Linked DNA regions of Homo sapiens. The protein of the gene in region 3 interacts with the protein of the main gene of each other region in a pairwise test. Each region holds a gene or a part of one and is shown on either strand. Other genes may lie near its edges.

Evidence for each region. Proteins that work in one complex are often made in the same cells at the same time.
Region 1: the proteins of MEOX1 (region 3) and PLCD4 interact in binary tests that used the Homo sapiens proteins (3 or more experiments, as listed by UniProt).
Region 2: the proteins of MEOX1 (region 3) and CIB3 interact in binary tests that used the Homo sapiens proteins (3 or more experiments, as listed by UniProt).

The regions. Positions count from the first base shown.
Region 1 is NC_000002.12:218,631,885-218,637,690, forward strand, and holds the end of PLCD4 (1-phosphatidylinositol 4,5-bisphosphate phosphodiesterase delta-4), read left to right. Parts: intron 1-251; coding exon 252-428; intron 429-1,444; exon of another isoform or gene 1,445-1,501; coding exon of another isoform or gene 1,502-1,720; coding exon 1,721-1,877; exon of another isoform or gene 1,878-2,220; coding exon 2,221-2,337; exon of another isoform or gene 2,338-2,573; coding exon 2,574-2,746; exon of another isoform or gene 2,747-3,911; coding exon 3,912-4,047; exon of another isoform or gene 4,048-4,358; coding exon 4,359-4,508; coding exon of another isoform or gene 4,509-4,586; coding exon 4,587-4,693; 3' UTR 4,694-5,291; downstream 5,292-5,806. UniProt on the Homo sapiens protein: Hydrolyzes the phosphatidylinositol 4,5-bisphosphate (PIP2) to generate 2 second messenger molecules diacylglycerol (DAG) and inositol 1,4,5-trisphosphate (IP3).
Region 2 is NC_000019.10:16,170,511-16,178,375, reverse strand, and holds the start of CIB3 (calcium and integrin-binding family member 3), read left to right. Parts: upstream 1-4,850; 5' UTR 4,851-4,900; coding exon 4,901-4,951; intron 4,952-5,179; coding exon 5,180-5,214; intron 5,215-7,865. UniProt on the Homo sapiens protein: Acts a an auxiliary subunit of the sensory mechanoelectrical transduction (MET) channel in hair cells. Plays a role in regulating hair cell MET channel localization and function.
Region 3 is NC_000017.11:43,658,911-43,666,451, reverse strand, and holds the start of MEOX1 (homeobox protein MOX-1), read left to right. Parts: upstream 1-4,529; 5' UTR 4,530-4,917; coding exon 4,918-5,386; intron 5,387-7,541. UniProt on the Homo sapiens protein: Mesodermal transcription factor that plays a key role in somitogenesis and is specifically required for sclerotome development. Required for maintenance of the sclerotome polarity and formation of the cranio-cervical joints.

The DNA.
Region 1 (5,806 bases), on a different chromosome or scaffold from region 3:
AACGAGTATTTACTGTGTCAAATGTGTGGCAGGAGACCATATATATTATTTTCCATATGGATAGAGATATTAAAAGTTTGCTTAACAATATGGGAATTCCAATTGTATGTATCAAGCAGCTAATCTCTTCCCTCGGGAACTTCCGACCACTCACTCACTTCCTCTGCCTTTGAGAACAATGAGACTGGCATGATTCCCAGAAGGACCCAAGAGCAGACAGGTAGACAGGCCCCTTCATTTTTGTCCCCTAGGAGCTTCGGAGGAAGATCCTGGTGAAGGGGAAGAAGTTAACACTTGAGGAAGACCTGGAATATGAGGAAGAGGAAGCAGAACCTGAGTTGGAAGAGTCAGAATTGGCGCTGGAGTCCCAGTTTGAGACTGAGCCTGAGCCCCAGGAGCAGAACCTTCAGAATAAGGACAAAAAGAAGGTAAGCCAGGAGTGGTCTTTCTGCTGTGGTATTTAGTCAACTTATGCAAGCTGAAGGCCTGTTCATGAAGACTAGAGCCGTGCAAGATGCAGGGCCAAGGAGCAATGACCCTTCCTCCCAATGAAGGAGATTTAAGACCGCATACATGGCATCAATATATATTATATACTGCCATATGTAGGTATGTTGCAGTGGCTTTCCAACTTCTTTGGGCCACATCTTTTTTTTTAAAATGAAATCTTACGCAAAATAGATAAACGCAGAACCATCCTAGTTGAAGCACCCATTTGGCTCTCTCCTGGGTGCCCTAGTGACTCCTGAGACATTTTTGTACTTCTTGGTCTTCTTAAAGGCCAGCTTGAAAACCAGTGATGAGCGGGTGTGTGTTTGTATGTGTAACATTATTATATTGGGTAAGTAGGGGTTACTGGAATGATTGTTGTGATCTCAACCAAAGTGGGCATAGAGAAAGCTTTTTGGAAAGGATGAGTTTTAGGAAGGGCCAGCAGTAGCCAGAGGAGCAGGAAGGAGAGCATTTTGAGGTGGGGAACGTGAAGGCTCTGAGAAGGCTGTGCTAGAGTGGTCCATCTCCCTATGGGGAAGGGAGGCAGAGGGAGAAGGGATGCCATTGGTGGGGCCTCCAAGATCCTGGTTTGAAGTCTGCCTTTCTCTTGTGTACTTGCGTGGCTCACTCAGCTGACTGACTCCTAGCTTATCCTGTGCTTTCTGGGGCTGTGGTGTCTAACCTGCTGCCATGTCCAGGGATGGAAATGGGAATTCAGGAGACAAATCCAAAGATATTACTCTGGGACTCTCACATCCTTCCAGGTGTGACTTACATGACCATTTGCATACCTTGACATATCTGTCTGGATTCATGTACATTTTGACCAAAGGTTATTGTTCCTTTGTTTTAAATGAGAGGGAGGGAGGATAATGCCTCTCTGTTTAAATATAATAATAAATTTAAAACCTGTCACCCAGGATATAACATAGAGCAAACACAAGCCCAGAGGTTGACACTGATCCCAGCAGTACATGCAGACCGCCTTTATTCCCATTCCCACCCCCAGGTTGTGACGTGCCCGCTGTTTTGTCCGTCTATCTGTTGTCAGATTGTGGCCCAGGCTCCTATTTCCAAGCCTGAGTCCCTTCTCTTGTCCCGGCAGGTGAGGCAGGAGGGAGAATACAGTGGGGAGGCAGTGGGCAGAGGTTTAGGTTGGATGGCCATTATCTTCTTCTCTCTCAGACTGCTGAGGGTTCAATTCCATCTTCTTTTCCACCTTCTCCAGAAATCCAAGCCCATCTTGTGTCCAGCCCTCTCTTCCCTGGTTATCTACTTGAAGTCTGTCTCATTCCGCAGCTTCACACATTCAAAGGAGCACTACCACTTCTACGAGATATCATCTTTCTCTGAAACCAAGGCCAAGCGCCTCATCAAGGAGGCTGGTCAGGACCAAAATGGAGGGATGGGGAGGGAAGTGGGATGGATAGGTTCAGGCCTGATGGACTGGCAGGTAAGTCCCAAGAAAAAAGACAAGGTAGCTAAGGAGAGATGAAGGAGTTCAGAAACTCCTTAGAGCAGACAAGGGCAGAGGAGTTATGAATAGTGGCTCAAGGGTCTAGGGGCAGGAAAGCTGGTCTGGATGGACAGAGTAGAGAGGCACAGTGAAACTTTCTGGAGCCAGCTTCAGATGCTGGAGAGAAGGGTGAAGAGTAGGCATGGTCCTTGGGACTAGGGAAGTGGGAGATTCCACCCCACTTCCATCTCCCTCTCTATACCCTTTTACAGGCAATGAGTTTGTGCAGCACAATACTTGGCAGTTAAGCCGTGTGTATCCCAGCGGCCTGAGGACAGACTCTTCCAACTACAACCCCCAGGAACTCTGGAATGCAGGCTGCCAGATGGGTGAGGAGGCAGCAGGGACTGGGAAGAGGGAGTGGAGGAGCAGCAGGTGGGAAATAAGTTCTCTAGTGATGGTAGGGTTGGGGAATGCTCAAGAAAATTGCTAGGCTGAGAAATGCTATCAGTGGATATTACCAGCAGGTACCGTGCACCCAGTACCTATCTTCTTAACTCCCTGAAAGAGGGGCTGGAAGGCCTCCATGGTGAATCTTGCTCTTCTTTTCTCCTGGGGCCCTCAGTGGCCATGAATATGCAGACTGCAGGGCTTGAAATGGACATCTGTGATGGGCATTTCCGCCAGAATGGCGGCTGTGGCTATGTGCTGAAGCCAGACTTCCTGCGTGATATCCAGAGTTCTTTCCACCCTGAGAAGCCCATCAGCCCTTTCAAAGCCCAGACTCTCTTAATCCAGGTACAGTGGAAATAAACTGTTGGGAAGAAACTGAGATAACTGGGATAGAAGTGAGGGAAGAGGTGGCTAGGCCTGACCGGAATGTAGAGGCCGGATAGCCTATTAACAGTGTCTAGTTTTAGCTTTTGGAGCCAGCTGCCTAGCTTCAAACCACAACTTCCTAATTGGGTAATGTTGGGCAAGTTCCTTAACCTCTCCATACCTCAGTCTGCTCACCTGCAAAATAGGGGTAACACTACCACCTGCCTCACAGGGTTATAAGGAGTATAACAGTTAATATAAAGTTCTTACAATTCCTGGCACACAGGAAGTGCTATAAAAGAGGCTGGCTGGGAGCGATAGCTTACACCTGTAATCCCAGCGCTTTGGAGGCCAAGGCAGGAGGACTGCTTGAGCCCAGGAGTTTGAGACCAGTCTGAAACTGGTCTCAACAAAAAATTTAAAAATTTTGTAGAGACTCCCGTCTCTACAAAAAATTTAAAAATTAGCCTGGCATGGTGGCACATGACTATAGATAGTCCTGGCTACTCAGGAGGCTAAGGCTGGAGGGTCACTTTAGCCCAGGAGATGGAGGTTGCAGTGAGCTATGACTGCCCCACTGCATTCCAGCTTGGTCAAGAGTATGATCGTGTCTCTTTGAAAAAAAAAAAGTGGCTGCTGTCATTAGCATGCCTACTTTCAAACTGTTGAATTTCTACCTGGATCCATTTAATTTATTTGTTTATTCTGAGACAGAGTCTTGCTCTGCTGCAGGCTGGAGTGCAGTGGCATGATCTTGGCTCACTGCAACCTCCGCCTCCTGGGTTCAAGTGATTCTCCCATCTGAGCCTTCCGAGTAGCTGGGACTACAGGCGCCCGCCACCATGCCTGGCTAATTTTTGTATTTTTAGTAGAGATAGGGTTTCACCATGTTGGCCAGGCTGGTCTCCTGGTTTCAAGTGATCTGCCCACCTCGGCCTCCTGAAGTGTTGGGATTACAGGTGTGAGCCACCGTGCCCGGCCTTTGGGTGCATTTTAAATTGCAGATAGAATACTAGAAGAAAATATATTACCCATGGAGGATGTTTTACAAACCAAAAAGCTTCTTCTCCCCTGGGGTTGGGAGTAGGGTCGGGTGGGGCTGGGCTGAGCAGGAACTTGTGAGATTCCAGAGCCCTGACTACAGGTGATCAGCGGTCAGCAACTCCCCAAAGTGGACAAGACCAAAGAGGGGTCCATTGTGGATCCACTGGTGAAAGTGCAGATCTTTGGCGTTCGTCTAGACACAGCACGGCAGGAGACCAACTATGTGGAGAACAATGGTGAGAAACTGGCAGTGCTGGGGAGGTGGGGGTAGGAGCATGATTAGTTTTCCTTCTAGTCTGTCTTCCATTAAGTATAGCATCTGTTATTGCATGTCCCCACATGGGAGGCAGTGTGGAACAGTACAAAGAATCCTGGCTCTTCACTTAAAAGCTCCAGTGACCTGGGCAAATTACTTGCTTACTCTGAGCCTTTTTCCTTACCTGTAAAATGCTGATTGCCATCTAGATTAAATGAGAACACAAGAAAAGCAACCCAGTCAAGAAAACTGTCATAATGTCTTCTTATTTCTTTCTGTCCACCAACTCAGGTTTTAATCCATACTGGGGGCAGACACTATGTTTCCGGGTGCTGGTGCCTGAACTTGCCATGCTGCGTTTTGTGGTAATGGATTATGACTGGAAATCCCGAAATGACTTTATTGGTCAGTACACCCTGCCTTGGACCTGCATGCAACAAGGTGAGCCAGCCCCTTTGGCCCCTGGCCAATACCCCAGCTCTGGCTGCCTTCCTAATGCTGTCCTCCTGCCCCTTCCAGGTTACCGCCACATTCACCTGCTGTCCAAAGATGGCATCAGCCTCCGCCCAGCTTCCATCTTTGTGTATATCTGCATCCAGGAAGGCCTGGAGGGGGATGAGTCCTGAGGTGGGCATTTCACGGGAAGGGTTGGTGTGCTGGCTTTAGACGGGGAGAAACATCTGGAAGGATGCTCGAGAGAACAAATGGAGGTGGTGAAAATCAAGCTTTGGATTGTGCATTCCTAGGCACAAAATTACCTCATTCTTCCTAACAAGCAATCTGGGACCTGATTTTCCACCTTTTTTCTCTTTTCTTCCCTTCCTTTGTTTTCATAAGCCTTTGGTATCTTTCCTGCCCTTTTCCTTTGTGTACTCTATACTGGAGTTCCCTTCTTCCTCTTGCTGTAGGCTCAATCCCATACCGACATCTACAACTAATCTTTCCCATCAACTCTGTGTGAAGGCAGGTTGCAACTAGAAATTCAGAGGGGCTTGGAATAGAGAAACCTAAAGAAGCATCATCCCCTCCATCCCCAACTTCCTCAAAGCCCAAAGCCAAGGGAAGGATAAATCAAGGCTCAAGGCTTCCCCAGCAAAGATTAGGGAAAGAGACTTGACCCCAGGACTGTACTACGACTCTTAAGAGAACACTGCACAGCACTCAAAGTCCCCCACTGGACTGCTTCCTCCTTAGCCCCACTGGTATAAATACATCTCTCTCCAATTTGGCTTCAATATGGTCTGTCATTGTTGGGCAAGAAGGGGAGGTACAAGGGTTGTGGGGACATCTGGGTAGTCAGGTGAGACAAGGAAAAGGTAGAGAAAGAGGTTCCCAGGAGACCTCTTGCATGTGCTACATAGGAAGGACACAGAGTATGGCTTTTAAGAATCAGGGCAAAAGCAGACAAAAGGTTATGTGGTCCCAGCCTTCCTGAAGAGTCTGGCTGGAACCATCCTGGTTTATGTCTGTTGTCCCAGCATAATTATTAATAGTACCCTCTTTAAGTTTTCCCAGTGTGTCTCAGTTTAGATGATCAATTATATAGTAAGGCACTACAGAATTATACTGTGAAGCAGTTATAGAATTCTGAATTGGAGATTTTCCTCTCTAGTCATCTGCCTTTCCATAGTATCCTTGTGCTTTAACACCTTAGTGTAGCTGCTGAGCCAGTCTGAGGATTGATGATGAGCTAAAGTTGCTTCTAGGAGGAGGCTTAGTGGGTAGCAATCCTCCCTCTA
Region 2 (7,865 bases), on a different chromosome or scaffold from region 3:
ACAGGTGTGAGCCACCTCGCCTGGCCAAAATTAATTTTTCTATGTCAGGCTGGGTGTAAATTTTCTATGCCAGGCTGACTCACACCTGGCCTGGTGTGCAATCCAAACACTTTGGGAGGCTGAGGCAAGAGGATCACTTGAGCCCAAAAGTTTGAGAACAGCTTGAGCAACATATTGAGACCTCATCTCTACAAAAAATACAAAAAATGCAGATCACGAGGTCAGGAGATCGAGACCATCCTGGCTAACACGGTGAAACCCCATCTCTGCTAAAAATATAAAAAATTAGCCGGGTGTGGTGGTGGGCGCCTGTAGTCCTAGCTACTCGGGAGGCTGAGGCAGGAGAATGGTGGGAACCTGGGAGGCGGAGCTTGCAGTGAGCAGAGATTGCGCCACTGCACTCCAGCCTGGGCGACAGAGCGAGACTCTGTCTCAAGAAATAAATAAATAAATAAATAAATAAATTAATTAATTAATTAATTAAAATATAAAAGTAAATAAAAAACTGAAAATAGTAACTGCTGGAGAAGATGTGAAATAACTAGAACCTACAAACACTGATGGTGAGAAAGCAAACTAGTGCAGCCTCTTTAGGAAGAAGTTTGGCAAGTTTCTTATATACTGAATATGAGCCATTAATCCTACCCCTCGATATTTACCCAAGTGGAATAAAAAAAAAATACAAAAAATTAGCGAGTGCGGTGGCACCTGCCTGTGGTCCCAGCTACTTAGGAGGGTGAGGTGGGAGGATCAGTTGAGCTCAGAAGGTAGAGACGAGTCTGAACGACATGGTGAGATCCCATCTCTACAAAAATTTAAAAAATTAGCCAGGTGTGGTGGTGTGCACATTTCATGTAAATAGAATCACACTATATGGGACTGTTCATCTCTAGCTTCTTTCACTCAACATAATGTTTTTGTTTTCTTCTTTTCTCTTTTTTGCAAAAGTTACCTTGATCAGCATAATGTTTTTATTTGGGTTGTCTTTCTAGTTTTGAGATGTAAGAGTTCTTAGTTTTTATCGTGGGTTTTGTTTTTTGGTTTTTTTCGAGATAGAGTCTCGCTCTTGTTGCCCAGGCTGGAGTGCAGTGGCACGATCTCAGCTCACTGCAACCTCCCCCTCCCAGGTTCAAGCGATTTTCCTGTCTCAGCCTCCCGAGTAGCTGGGATTACAGGCGCCCACCACCACACCTGGCTAATTTTTTGTATTTTTAGTAGAGACAGGGTTTCACTATGTTGGCCAGGCTGGTCTCTAACTCCTGACCTCAGGTGATCCACCCACCTCATTCTCCCAAAGTGCTGGGATTACAGGCGTGCGCCCGGCCCTGAGAGTTCTTTATATATTCTGAATAGTAGTTCCTTATGAGATATATGATTCACAAATACAGTTAGCCCTTCATATCCAGTTTCCTTATCCATGGATTCAATAAACCACGGAGTGAAAATACCTGGAACCAATAAAATAAAAATAATACAACAATAAAAAGAATACAAATAAAAATGTGTAACAATTATTTATGTAGCATTTATATTTCATTAGATATTATACATAATTTAGAGATAATTTAAAGTCTATGGAGGGCCGGGCATGGTGGCCCATGTAATCCCAGCATTTTGAGAGGCCAAGGTGGGCCGGATCACTTGAGGTCAGGAGTTTGTGACCAGCCTGGCCAACATGGCAAAACCCCGTCTCTACTAAAAATATAAAAATTAGCTGGACACAGTGGTGTGCACCTGTAATCCCAGCTACTAGGGAGGCTGAGGCAGGAGAATTGCTTGAACCTAGGAGGCAGAGGTTGCAGTGGGCTGAGATTACGCCACTGCACTCCAGCCTGGGTGACAGAGCCAGACTCCAACTCGAAAAAGTAAAATAAAAATAAATAAATAAATAAATAAAGTGTATGGAAGATGTGCACAGGCTATATGCAAATATTATGCCATTTTATATAAATGACTTGAGCACTGAGCATTTGTCCCATTCTGTGGGCATGACAGGTTTTTGTGTGAACCTAGTTTAAATTTTTTTTTTACACTATACTTTATTTTTTTAGAGCAGTCTTAGTTTCACAGCAAAATTGATCAGAAGGTACAGAGATTTCCCGTACACCTGCTGCTTTCATACTTGTATAGCTTCCCCTACAATCAACATCCTCCACATGCAAGTGCATGACAGTAGCTAGTCTGTTACAATTGATGAACTGACACTGATACATCATTATCACCCACAGTGGTTAGTGGATAGTTTACATTAGGGGTCACTCTCAGTTGAACATAGGTTTTTATTTCCCTTGGGTAAACACCCAGGAGTCTTTTTTTTTTTTTTTTTTTGAGACAGGATCTCACTCTGTCTCCCAGGCTGGAGTGCAGTACAGTGGAGTGATCATAGCTCACTTCATCCTCGACCTCCCTACCTCAAGCAAACCTCCCAAGTAGCTGGATACCACCAAACCTGGCTAATTTTTGTATTTTTGTAGAGATGGGGCTTCACCATGTTGCCTAGGCTGGTCTCCAACTCCTGGGCTAAAGTGGTCCTCTTGCCTTGGCCTCCCAAAGTGCTGGGATTACAGGCATGAGCCACCATACCAGGCCCTGAATCTTGTGGTAAGGTTAAGTTTAATTCTATTTAAAAAAAACCCAGCCAACCTATTTTCCAGAGTGTCTATACCATTTTGCATCAACACCAGCAATGTATGAGCATTCCAGTTGCTCCATACCCTCACCAACACTTGATATTGTTTATTTTTTGAAAGTTATTCTTGGATGGCTGGGCATGGTGGTTCATGCCTGTAATCCCAGCACTTTGGGAGGCTAAGGTGGGTAGATCACTTGAGGCCAGGTGTTCAAGACCAGCCTGGGCAACATAGACAGACCCTGTCTCCACAAAAAATACAAAAAAAAAAAAATTAGCCGGATGTGGCAGCATGTGCCTCTAGTGCCAGCTACCTGGGAGGCTGAGGAAGGAGGGTCGCTGCAGTGAGCCATGATTGTATCACTGCTCTCCAGCCTGGGTGACAGAGTGAGACCCTGTCTCAAAAAAAAAAAAAAGTCATCCTTGAGGCATCTTTCAAGCCTGATCAGGGTCACATTTTACAAGATGACTGCACAGATTTGGCAGAGGATGCTTGATGAGGCCGAGGCAGGAAAGCCTGCTGGGAAACATTGCAATAGTCCAGGCCAGGTAGAGAAAACACAGGTGAGACCCAAAGTGAGAAGGGCATGGAGGGCCAGGCTAAGAAATTTAGACTCTCAGATTCTCCACCCAAGAGGATTCTGGGCCTTAATAAAGTTGGTAGCTGCTACATTAGATCTGCCCTTTGGGCCGGGCGAGGTGGCTCACACATGTAATTCCAGCACTTTGGGAGGCCGAGGCGGGTGGATCACCTGAGGTCAGGAGTTCGAGACCAGCCTGGCCAACATAGTGAAACTCTGTCTCTACTAAAAATACAAAACTTAGCCAGGCGTGGTGGTGGGCGCCTGTAATAATCCCAGCTACTCGGGAGGCTGAGGCAGGAGAATGGCCTGAACTCGGGAGGTGGAGCTTGCAGTGAGCCGAGATCACGCCACTGCACCCTAGACTGGGTGACAGAGCGAGACTCCGTCTCAAAAAAAAAAAATACAAAAAAAATTAGCTTGGCATGGTGGACACCTGTGGTCCCAGCTACCTGGGATGCTGAGGCAGGAGAATCACTTGAACCTGGGAGGCAGAGATTGCAGTGAACCGAGATCACACCACTGCACTCCAGCCTGGGCAACAGAGTGAGACTGTCTCAAAAAAATAAAATGTAATAAAATAATAATGTCAATGCACACCCCAGAACTTCATCTAGCTTGTTCACCATTATGTTCCCAATGCAGTGATGCAATCATGGCTCACTGCAGCCTCAAACTCCTGGGCTCAAGCAATCCTCCCACCTCAGCCTCCTGAGTAGCTGGGACCACAGGCATGCACCACCACATCCAGCTAATTTTTGTATTTTTAGTAGAGATAGGGCCTTGCCATGCTGCCCAAGCTGATCTTGAACTCCTGGCCTCAAGTGAATCTCATGCTTTGTCCTCCTAAAGTGCTGGGATTACAGGTATGAGCCACCTCGCCCAGCCAAAACCTTTTTTTTTTTTTTGGAGATGGAGTCTTACTCTGTCACCCAGTCTGGAGTGCAATGGCGGGATCTCGGCTCACTGCAACCTCCACCTCCTGGGTTCAAGCAATTCTCCTGCCTCAGTCTCTGGAGTAGCTGGGATTACAGGCATGTGTCACAATGCCAAGCTAATTTTTGTATTTTTAGTAGAGATGGGGTTTTGCCGTGTTGGCCAGGCTGGTCTTGAACTCCTGACCTCAGGTGATCCGCCTGCCTGGCCCTCCCAAAGTGCTGGGATTACAGGTGTGAGCCACCTTGCCCAGTCAAAACCTTTTTTTTTTTTTTTTAAATCTCAGATCCTGAGAATGACCCTATGAGGTAGGTATAATGTAATTTTCATCTCATGAATGAGGTTCAGAGAAGTCAGGTGACTTGCCCAGGGCCACACAGCTAGTGGGCAGAGAGCTGGGATTTGAGCTGCAGTGTGCCCATAGCCCTTCTGTATACCCTGCCTGTCTCTTGAGTGTGCCCCATAACCCCAGCCTCACCTTGTGGTGGCAGATGTGGCCTCCCCACTGAGGTCTTCTCTGTGACATCCCACAGCCCTTATCCTTACCCATGGACACATTCAGGCTGTTGTCCAGAGAGCCTGGCTGTAATTTGAGTCTCATCAAGCAGGGGGTGATGGCGTAGGTGGGTGGGTGACAGCCAGGGCAGGGAGATTTGCCCAGACACTGGTACACAACAGCCTGGCAACCCGTGTGGCCCCGAGGAAGCTGGGAGCCTTTGGGGTGCATCCCCAAGTCTGGGCTGTGGTTCACACCATGGGCAACAAGCAGACAGTCTTCACACACGAGCAGCTGGAAGCGTATCAGGTAGAGGGGGGCAGGATGGGTCCTCAGTGGGTTTGACAACTTTGGTTCCGTGGTCTGGGAAATGGGAACAGAATGCCTTCATCTGGGTGTACCGTCCGCCTGGGTTCCTGGTTCTGCTCTGTGTGTGGCAGCATCAGGCCATCTGTGTGAGTGTGGGGTGGAGGGAGGAGGCCGTGGGAGGAGGCCCCAGAGGCAGGGTTCGGGTTAAGACAACACCTCTCTCCACAGGACTGCACATTTTTCACAAGGAAGGAGATCATGAGGTCAGTCCAGGGAGGAAGGGAGAGAAGATCTGGAAAAACAACTTTCTATTCATTGCTGGAGGATATTTGCAATTTGGTGTGTGTGTGTGTGTGTGTGTGTGTGTGTGTGTGTGTGTGTGTAAGTAGTCTTTCTTTCTTTCTTTCTCTTTTCTCTCTCTCTCTCCCTCCCTCCCTCCCTTCCTTCCTTCCTTCCTTCTTTTCTTTTTTTTTGAGACAGGGTCTGTCTCTATTGCCTGGGCTGGAGTGCAGTGGTGCAATCATGGCTCATTGCAGGCTCGATCTCCCAAGGTCAGGTGATCCTCCCACCTCAGCCTCTCGAGTAGCTAGGACCACTGGTGCGAGCCACCACATGTACCTCATTTTTGTATTTTTTTATAGAGATGGGGCTCTCACTATGTTGCCCAGGCTGGTCTTAAACCCTTGGGCTCAAGCGATCCCCCTGCCTCAGCCTCCCAAAGTGCTGGGATTACAGGTGTGAGCCACCATGCCCAACTGGTATTTCCAATTTGTTGGGACTCAAATGGGGAAGGGGGGCAGGTGTGGTCAGTGGACAGAGGCAGAGATGGAGAAGCTGACAAGTCACATCTTGTCATACTGTCCCAGTCTCTAGGCTGATGAGCTTGGGCTTTCTCCCAAGGGTGGCAGGGAGCTATGGAGCATGCATGAGCAGGGGAGAGACCATCAGCACGTTAGAAAGATTCTCCTGAGGCTGGGCGCGGTGGCTCATGCCTGTAATCCCAGCACTTTGGGAGGACAAGGTGGGTGGATCACCTGAGGTCAGGAGTTTAAGATCAGCCTGGCCAACATGGTGAAACCCCATCTCTGCTAATAATACAAAAATCAGCTGGGCGAGGTGGTGGGTGCCTGTAATCCCAGCTACTCAAGAGGCTGAGGCAGGAGAATTGCTTGAACCTGGGAGGTGGAGGTTGCAGTGAGCCGAGATCACGCCACTGTGCTCCAGCCTGGGTGACAGAGCTAGACTCTGCCTCAGAAAAACAAAATGAAAGATAAAGATTCTCCTGAGACTGGGACTTGAGGCTGGGAGCCCAGGTGCAAAGTCCAGAGCCCAGTCTGGGTTGTGGGCTTGGCATTAAGATGAGGGTGTGAGGAGGTGGCCCAAGGCTGCTGCAGGTCCCTGGCGTGACCCAGCACGATGGGCACAGATGAGTATCCCACATCATCACTCGGCCTGTGGGGCCATTGCCCAGGGGCCCCGACCCATGAACTTGGAGCTATGAAACCCAAGCTGGCCAGGGTTCAGCTGCAGTGTGATCGGGGCCAAGGCCCCAGTTGTGTAGTAACAGGACATCCATTATTGATGGCCACACCTTTTACTAGTGAGCCCCATTGTTTGGGTGAGGACAGCTTGCAGGGTCACCTCGGCCATCACGATCAAATTACTGATGGGGAAACTGAGGCTCAGACAGGGCGGGGCTGATCCCAGGCTGAAGGGTAAATGCACAGAGCCCCAAGGCCCCAAGGACAGACATTTTGTCTGTCCCAAGCTTCTTGCTTATCAGATAGAATAACCAAGGCACAGAGAGGGAGAGGAGAGGAACATGCTCAGAGCCACACAGAAACCTAAACCCAGGGTATTCCCTGATGGGACCCCGACAGGGAACTGAGTGGTCAGGATGAAAGTTCTAGGTCTCCCCACCCCACCTTCATTGAGTTCCTAGTCATCATATGACCTAGGGACTCATGTCTCTCTCAGAGACAGTCCCTAGCAGCTTGGGGACCTCAGACCCACCAAGGATGGTCTCTGCAAGGCTGCTGCTCAGCATGCCCTAATGAAGGTATGGTGTCACAGGTGAGGGCTTCTGAGTGGAGAACTGGCCTTATAATCTGGATAGTGTGTGTGGTATTCAGTTATTTGCAAAATATCTTTTGTCTGCCCTTTAGAAAAAATGTGACTATTAGCTGTTTGTCTCTGCTCTGCCCCATTGAGGAATCCCTCCTTTTTTTTCTTTCTTTCTTCTTTTCTTTCTTTCTTTTTTATTTTTTATTTATTTATTTTTTTTATTGAGACCGAGTCTCATTCTGTTGCCCAGGCTGGAGTGCACTGGCTTGATCTCGGTTCACTGCATGCTGCGCCTCCCGGGTTCACACCATTGTCCTGCCTCAGCCTCCGGAGTAGCTGGGACTACAGGCGCCCACCACCACGCCTGGCTAAATTTTTATATTTTTAGTGGAGACGGGGTTTCACCATGTTAGCCAGGATGGTCTTGATCTCCTGTCCTCGTGATCCACCTGCCTCGGCCTCTCAAAGTGCTGGAATTACAGGCGTGAGCCACCGCGCCCGGCCTCTTTCTTTCTTTTTTCTTTTCTTTTTTTTTTTTGAGACAGAGTCTCGTTCTTGTTGCCCAGGCTGGAGTGCAGTGACACGATCTCAGCTCACTGCAACCTCCAGCTCCCAGGTTCAAGTGATTCTCCTGCCTCGGCCTCCCGAGTAGTTGGGATTACAGGTGCCCGTCACCACGCCCAGCTAATTTTTTGTATTTTCAGTAGAGATGGGGTTTCACCATGTTGGCCAGGCTAGTCTCGAACTCCTGACCTCTGGTGATCCACCCGCCTCGGCCTCCCAAAGTACTGGGATTACAGGCATGAGCCGCTGCATCCGGCCTCTTCCTCCCATTATAAGGAGAGGAAGG
Region 3 (7,541 bases):
AGAGGTTGCGGTGAGCCGAGATCCCACCACTGCACTCCAGCCTGGGCAACAGAGCAAGACTCCGTCTCAAAACAAAAAACAAAAAAACAGAGCTGAGGTTTGAACCCACAGGCCCCCAATTCCCAAGGCCATGATTTGGACCCTTGTGTTATGTTGCCATAGAAGGTATCTGGGGGCTGGGATGAGCCGTCTTCACCTACATTGTGCTGTGTCCTGCCCAGTGGTTCAGCATAGTTAAGGACAAGCTATTCCTCACATGCATCACCCTTTATAGTCAGCCAGCTCTGTTCTCAGATGCAGTTCATTTATCCTCCTAACCGCCAGGTGAGGCCGGAACTGTCAACTCCATTTTGCCAGTGAGAAAAATGAAGCTCAGAGAAGGGTGTGATTTGCCTGAGACCACACAGCCGGTAACAGGCAAGGTCACACCTTGAACCCGTGTCTTCTGCCTCCAGGTCCAGGGCCTTGCCCTGACACCCTGCCTCTCCAAGCACAAGGGGGTGGGGTGGCCACAAACAGAAGCAGCCCTGTCCTGCCAAGTACACGCCTGCCTGCCACGCACAATGGGAGACATTCCGCAAGTTCCACGTGATGGCTCAGGTGTGGCCAGGCTGAAAGCCCTCCTGGGCCCCCCCACGCCCCTGGGGGACCTCCTCGTGACTCACACTTTTCCTCTTCCTCCCCTTATTCTCCCCAACAATCAGAAACCGGGGTCCCCTCCCTTCCTGAAAACAGAGCTCTCCTCATGAGGCCACAGGGCTTTTTCGACACACAGCTCCTTCCATCCATCTCTGTCTCTGGCCCTGTGGGGCCTTGACAGGGAAACGCTGACTTTGAGGAGGTTAAAGGTGCTGGTGCCCGGCCTTCATCTAACAAATGGGTTGCCGTGAGGGGAGGAACTGTTGTTGTTTTTTCCTGGCCTCAGAAGAGGGGCCTGTCAGGAAGATGTAGGGGCCAGCAGCCCCCGGCCGCGCCCCGCAAGGTGGCTGACAGACGCCAGCAGCTGCCGGGGGCTCCGGGGTGCCAGAGGCCTGTGTTCTCAGGGCAAAGCACCCCACCGCGCCCCCTCCCCATGGCCCTCCTGACCTCCCCACCCACCCCACCATGACCCAGGGCCCACCCCGTCCAGGGGCAAAGGGCCAGGCGCTGGGCCTCCCTGCCATGAGGTCCCTGGGCCAGATGCAGAGGTGGAGCAGGAATCCGGTTACAGCCTGCGGCCAGCCCAGGGGAAGGTTTTCCTAGGGAAGCTGACAAGCCAGATCTTCCTCCCAGCCTCCCACGGATTCCTTCCAGAACCCCCACAGCACAGCGTGCCCCCCACAAAGGACCTCACAAGGCTGTTTCTGTAGAATTTCCTCAGAACTCCCCATTCCCAGGTTCACCCTTTGGGATCATCGAGGTTAACCAGAAATAGATGTGCTAGGAAGGGAGCCACATTTGTCCATTACTTACTCTGCCTTTTGCATAAAGGATTTCTTTCTTTATTTCTTTTTCTTTTTCTTTTTTTTTTTTTTTGAGACAGTGTCTCACTCTGTCGCCCAGGCCGGAGTGCAGTTGTACAATCTTGGCTTACCGCAACCTCTCTGCTTCCCAGGCTCAAGCGATTCTCCTGCCCTCAGCCTCCCGAGTAGCTGGGATTACAGGCATGTGCCACCACACCCAGCTAATTTTTGTATTTCTTTTTTTTTTTTTTTTTGAGATGGAGTCTCGCTCTGTCACCCAGGCTGGAGTGCAGTGACGTGATCTCGGTGCACTGCAAGCTCTGCTTCCCGGGTTCACACCATTCTCCTGCTTCAGCCTCCCAAGTAGCTGGGACTACAGGCGCCCGCCACCACGCCCGCCTTTTTTTTTTTTTTTTTGTATTTCTAGTAGAGACGGGGTTTCACTGTGTTAGCCAGGATGGTCTCGATCTCCTGACCGCATGATCCACCCGCCTCGGCCTCCCAAAGTGGTGGGATTACAGGCGTGAGCCACCGCGCCCGGCCTAATTTTTGTATTTCTATTAGAGACGGGGTTTTACCATGTTGGCCGGGCTGGTCTTGAACTCCTGGCCTCAAATGATCTGCCTGCCTCAGCCTTCCAAAGTGCTGGGATTATAGGTCTGAGCCACCGTGCCTGGCCTACATAAAGGATTTCATTGAAGATTTGCAAATGTCTGTGGGCTGGGCTGCCTCAATTTGAATCCTGGGTCCGCCGCTTCCCTGCTGTGTGGCCTTGTGCAGGTTACACAGTCTATCTGTGCATCAGAGTCTTCTGCTGAAAAACGGAGCTGATAAAAAAAAAAGAGAGAGAGAGAAACGGAGCTGATGAGAATGACTGTTGCCTCAGAAGGCTTTTGTGGGAATCCGTGGGGGTAAAAATGTGTAAGGTGCAAAGTGCCTTACACAGATCCCACTCTGACTGTCATCTCAGATGAGGAAACAGAAGTTCAGAGAGATGGCCAGGCATGGTGGCTCATGCCTGTAATCCCAGCACTTTGGGAGGCCGAGGCGGGCGGATCACGAGGTCAGGAGATTGAGACCATCCTGGCTAACACGGTGAAACCCCGTCTCTACTAAAAAATACAAAAAATTAGCCGGGCGTGGTGGCGGGTGCTTGTAGTCCCAGCTACTCGGGAGGCTGAGGCAAGAGAATGGCGTGAGCCCGGGAGGCGGAGCTTGCAGTGAGCTGAGATCATGCCACTGCACTCCAGCCTGGGCGACAGAACGAGACTCCATCTCAAAAAGAAAAAAAAAAAAAAGAAGTTCAGAGAGATAAGGTGACTTGTTCCAGGGCACACAGCCAGGAAGTGGCAGACCTGGGGCTTGAACTCAGACCCGTCTAACCTCAAACCCCATGCCTCCTCCTCTGCATCTGGCCTGCTCCAAACTGAACAGCAGGACACCTGAGGCCAAGTGCTGATTCCACCATTTCTTAGCTGTGTGAGTCTGGGCAGCCCAGTCATCCATCTGAGCCTCGGTTTTGTCATCTGCAAAATGGAGACATAATTCTTACTTACCCATCCTAGGAAAGTTGTGAGGCTCAGAGAATTGTGTGTGCCACAGCTAAGCCCTGGGCAAAGCAGAAAGATGAGTCTGGTTGACAGCTATGACCCCATCCACTCTACTGGTCTACAACACTCTGACCGCTTGTTCCAGAAGAGGGCACATCTTTTCATATGTACACCCCTCCCCATCTTTTACAGCTGCTCCTGCTCCCAGGATGTGTATCTGACTGGAGTTTCTGGATTAAAGGCCAGTCGTGGCTTCATTCCACATCCCTGGGTGCCCTTCGGCTCCTCCTAGGAGCATCTCCTGCACCCACCCCCCAGGGCCCCACCTCCAGGCTGCAGAGCTAAGACCTAGGGGCCCCTCCTCAGGGAACCCTCGCCGTCTTTGGAAGCAGCCAGCAGAGACGCTGCTGTTAAGGTCCATGCCTGTTTCTGCCCCCATCCTGCTGCTCTGGGCCATGGGAATAACCAGTGGGGAAGGAGTTCTGGCCCCTGGGTGTTAGGAATGTCGTCCTCCAAGAAATTGCATTAACCCTCTGAGAGACCAGCAGGGCGCAGCCATGAGGAAGACTGGGCATCAAGATGGCACTTGGGCTGGCTGCCCTGTGATGTGCACCAGCCCGGAGACCCACGTGCCTGCTTGCCAAAGAGGCTCCTTTGGGGAATGAGGAGCCCCTGATTCCTATTTCCCTACCCCAAATTCCTCGGAAGCCTCCGCCTCTGGGGGATGAGAAAGGGAAGCAGGTGGGTGGAGGTGAAGGGGGCAGGGAGCAGGTGGGAGGAGACCCGAAGAAACTTCAAGGACCTTATTTAAGAGCCTTGCCATTGCTGTGAAGAAAAATGACTTGAAACCTCTCTAGAGAAGAGTGTGGCTAATTGGCATGTATGTTGGAGGTTAAAGAGCGGAAGGAAGAATCTGATTGTTTTTTTAAGTTACTGAGAAAGTGAGAATGTCACTCTGGGCAGAGAGAAATTCTTTTTTTCTAGAGTGTGCCTTTCTTTGTACTGCAGACCACAGTGGGCCGCTGAGACTTGCAAAAAAGATTTCTTTTAATCCACCTTCCTTTTTCGCAGGCAGCAGTAGAAGGGCCTTTAAATCAAATGCAATCACCAAGCTTGTCTCTTGCTCTTATTCCTCACTTCACTCCCTGGAATTTGGCATTTGATGGATTCTGGATCTGACTTAAGGCTTTTTCTAAATCCAAGACTTGGGGAATTTTGTTAACAGTGCAATAAAAATAACTTCATAGTGTTACAGGAGGCACATTAAAGACGGTGTGTGTGTATGTGTGTGTGTGCTGCTCTCTTTCCTTAAAAAAAAAATACAGACAATGTTTCTTTAAAAGTCTCCATCTGCAAATCCCATTAGATGTGCATATAAGGTTTCTGATGATTAATAGTTGCCTGCTAGGGTTTTGGTTGGAGGGGATCTTGTGTGTGTGGGTTAACCCCTCCCTCTCCTCTCTCACATTTCACTTCAGAAATTTGTCACTCTCTCCCCACCGCAGGATTTAAAAGTGTGTCCCAGCAGCCCTGGTCCAGCCCTCTGCAGGCATTTGCTCTGGGCTCCAGGACGAACTCCTCGTCAGCTGGTGCGTCTGGGTTGGGACAGTGAAAATGTTTAGTGTCATTGGCGACAAATACACATACAGGGGATCCCAGTAGGTAGGCTGGTGCATTGGAGGGGCAGGAGCAAGCCCGACATAGGTGTGTGCACACACATAGGAGTAGCTGGCCACATGTGTGTGTACTTTAAGGAGAGACTTTAGTTTTGGGTTTTTTTTTTTTTTTGGTTCCTGGGGTAAATTTTCTGTTGAACATTTTTCCCTCCTATTTAGTTTTTTTTCTTTTGCATTTTTAAAAATTTGAACATAAAAAGTATAAAGAATCAAATCTTTGAAAGGACCGAGGCGTGCAGCGGACAGCAGATGGATCCCGCGGCCAGCAGCTGCATGAGGAGCCTCCAGCCCCCAGCCCCTGTCTGGGGCTGCCTTCGAAACCCCCACTCGGAAGGCAATGGGGCCTCAGGGCTACCCCACTACCCGCCCACCCCGTTCTCCTTCCACCAGAAACCAGACTTCCTGGCGACAGCGACGGCAGCGTACCCTGACTTCTCAGCCTCCTGCCTGGCAGCCACCCCACACAGCCTGCCCCAGGAGGAGCACATCTTCACTGAGCAGCACCCCGCTTTCCCACAGTCCCCCAACTGGCACTTCCCTGTCTCAGACGCCCGGCGCAGGCCCAACTCAGGCCCGGCAGGGGGTTCCAAGGAAATGGGGACCAGCAGCCTGGGCCTGGTGGACACCACAGGAGGCCCAGGCGATGACTACGGGGTGCTTGGGAGCACTGCCAATGAGACAGAGAAGAAATCATCCAGGCGGAGAAAGGAGAGTTCAGGTAGGTGGCTCAGGAGCAGCTGATCATTCCTTTACTGTGTGACCCTGGGGAAGTTACTCACCCTCTCTGTGCCTAGGTGCTCTGAGCATGAATTTCTGTCTAGTCCATCCAAATGCAGGAGACTGGACCAGTTACCTTTGGGGTTTCTTCCACTGAGAGTTCTAGGATTCTCTGGTGATGGGGACCATGTCTGTGTCCCAGCACTCCTGGGCCCCAGAAAGGGTGTCCAGCAAGAGAATGAAACAGGATCAGCCAGGATTTGGAGGACACGTGAAATGGATCCTCTGGGTGCAGACTGGCGAGGGCTGGTGAGGGGCTTTCCTGAATCAGGCTGCCATTGAGTCATCCTCCTCCCCACCATGCTTTGGCCAGCCCCAAGTGGTCCTAGAGCCACAGGGCTCGCTTACCAGGGAAGTTCAGCTGAGGTTAAGGCTCTGAGAGCTAAGACTGAAGCTGGGACCCTGGGTGGCCACCCAAAGCCAAGACCCTATGTGTCCAGGAGCCTAGAGGCAGAGAAGCAGGCCTGCGGCTGGGATGGGAGAATCAAGGGGTGAGGGGGAGATGGAGGGCTGAGGTTTGGGGCAGACTGCCCACCAGATATCACCCTGCGGAGCTGGGCCATGTCCAGGCCAAGGGGACAGACAACTCAGCATGCTGAGATCTGGCTGACCCCCCAGGAAGGCAGCCCCGCAAGGAGCTGCAAGGGATGGGCAGCCTCTGAGAGAGTCAGGGAGGCAGGCAGCCAAGGGAGTCCGTGCTGGAGTCCCAGAGGCTGGAGGATGAGATTGGCCTATTTGTTAAGATTCCAGCTAAAGCCCTTCTCTTCCCCAGGGTGGGGACCTGCTGCTTCCTCACCTCCCCACCAGGCCCTCCCTGGTTGCTCACTATACCTGTCCACCTTTTGTCTGGTTCCTTGTCCCGGCCTCGTTCAGAACAAAGCAGTGACCAAGCCTCCTGCCCGTGCTGCCCTGTTTTCCTCCTGACAGCCGCCCTCAGGGGCACGCCTGTCTGTCGGAGCCTGTAGAGGACCTTCCCATGGGGCTAACCAGGGCAGGACAGAAAAGAAGGACACCAACCAACAGGTGGGAATGCTTTGTGCTTTGCTTTATAAGCACAGCTTTCCCGAGTTTCTGCTCTTAGCCAAGCCCAGGAATGCTCTGAGATGAATAAAGGGGTCTCACCCAAGAAAGCTCAAACTGAGAGGAAGAAGAGGCCTGCAGAGGTGTGTCAGCAGTGGGATGTGCCCTGATGGGGAGGCTTAAGGTGCCATGGGATACTGACGTCAGCTCTTTTGAGTCCCACGGGTTTGGGAGATGGGGACAGCAGGTTTTATTAGTACCTTGATTCTCTCAATCTGCAAAATGAAAGACTGAAAGTTGGTGAGAACACAGAAAGAATGGGGTCAAACTAGAGTGAGCAGCTCATCTCCATTTGCCCAGGACTTTTCCAGTTTTAGCACTGAAAATCCTGTCGTAGGAAACCCCACAGTCCCAGGCAAACAGAAGAATTGGTCACCCTAGAAGTGAGCTCAAACCCCAGGCTTCAGGCCCCCGGTATCACCCCCTTCAGTAGATTTCAAATGCAGTCCTCATTTTGAAATGATGTTTGGTCTGTCTGCTTGAAGAAGCCCCTTCTTCAATGGGAGATAGGAACTCTAGCAGCCCTCATGGCTGCTAAATAGAAGGGCCCTTTAAACCGCCAGCCAGTTAGATCCCCATCCCGAAAATTAACTCATCCTGCCCCTGGTAGGAAATGTGCTAAGGATGAGAAGCAACTCTCAGCGACTTGGCTCTGAACCTGGTTGAAGAGCTTTCCCCTTGGTGGCGGCACGCAGCACTGTGGCTCCTTCCTCTCTGCCACTTTCCAGAGAACTGACAGCCAAGGGCATTGGGAAGGGATAGCAAAGCCAAGAGCCTGCTGGGCTCAGGCAGAATCTTCCAGCATTCCGAGTCTCAGCAAAACCCAAATGCACCAGCTCTCTTTTTGGCGAGTGGCCGATGGCCCTGCAATGCAGAGAGACCATTCACACTAAGCAGCTGGCCACCCAGGAGTACAGGGACACCCTCGGCTGAACGGCCTGCATGCTTCAGGGTCAGACTTTGGTGGAGGGAGGTTCCCATCCGCAGGGGCCCTGGGCTTCCCTAAGGGTCCCCTC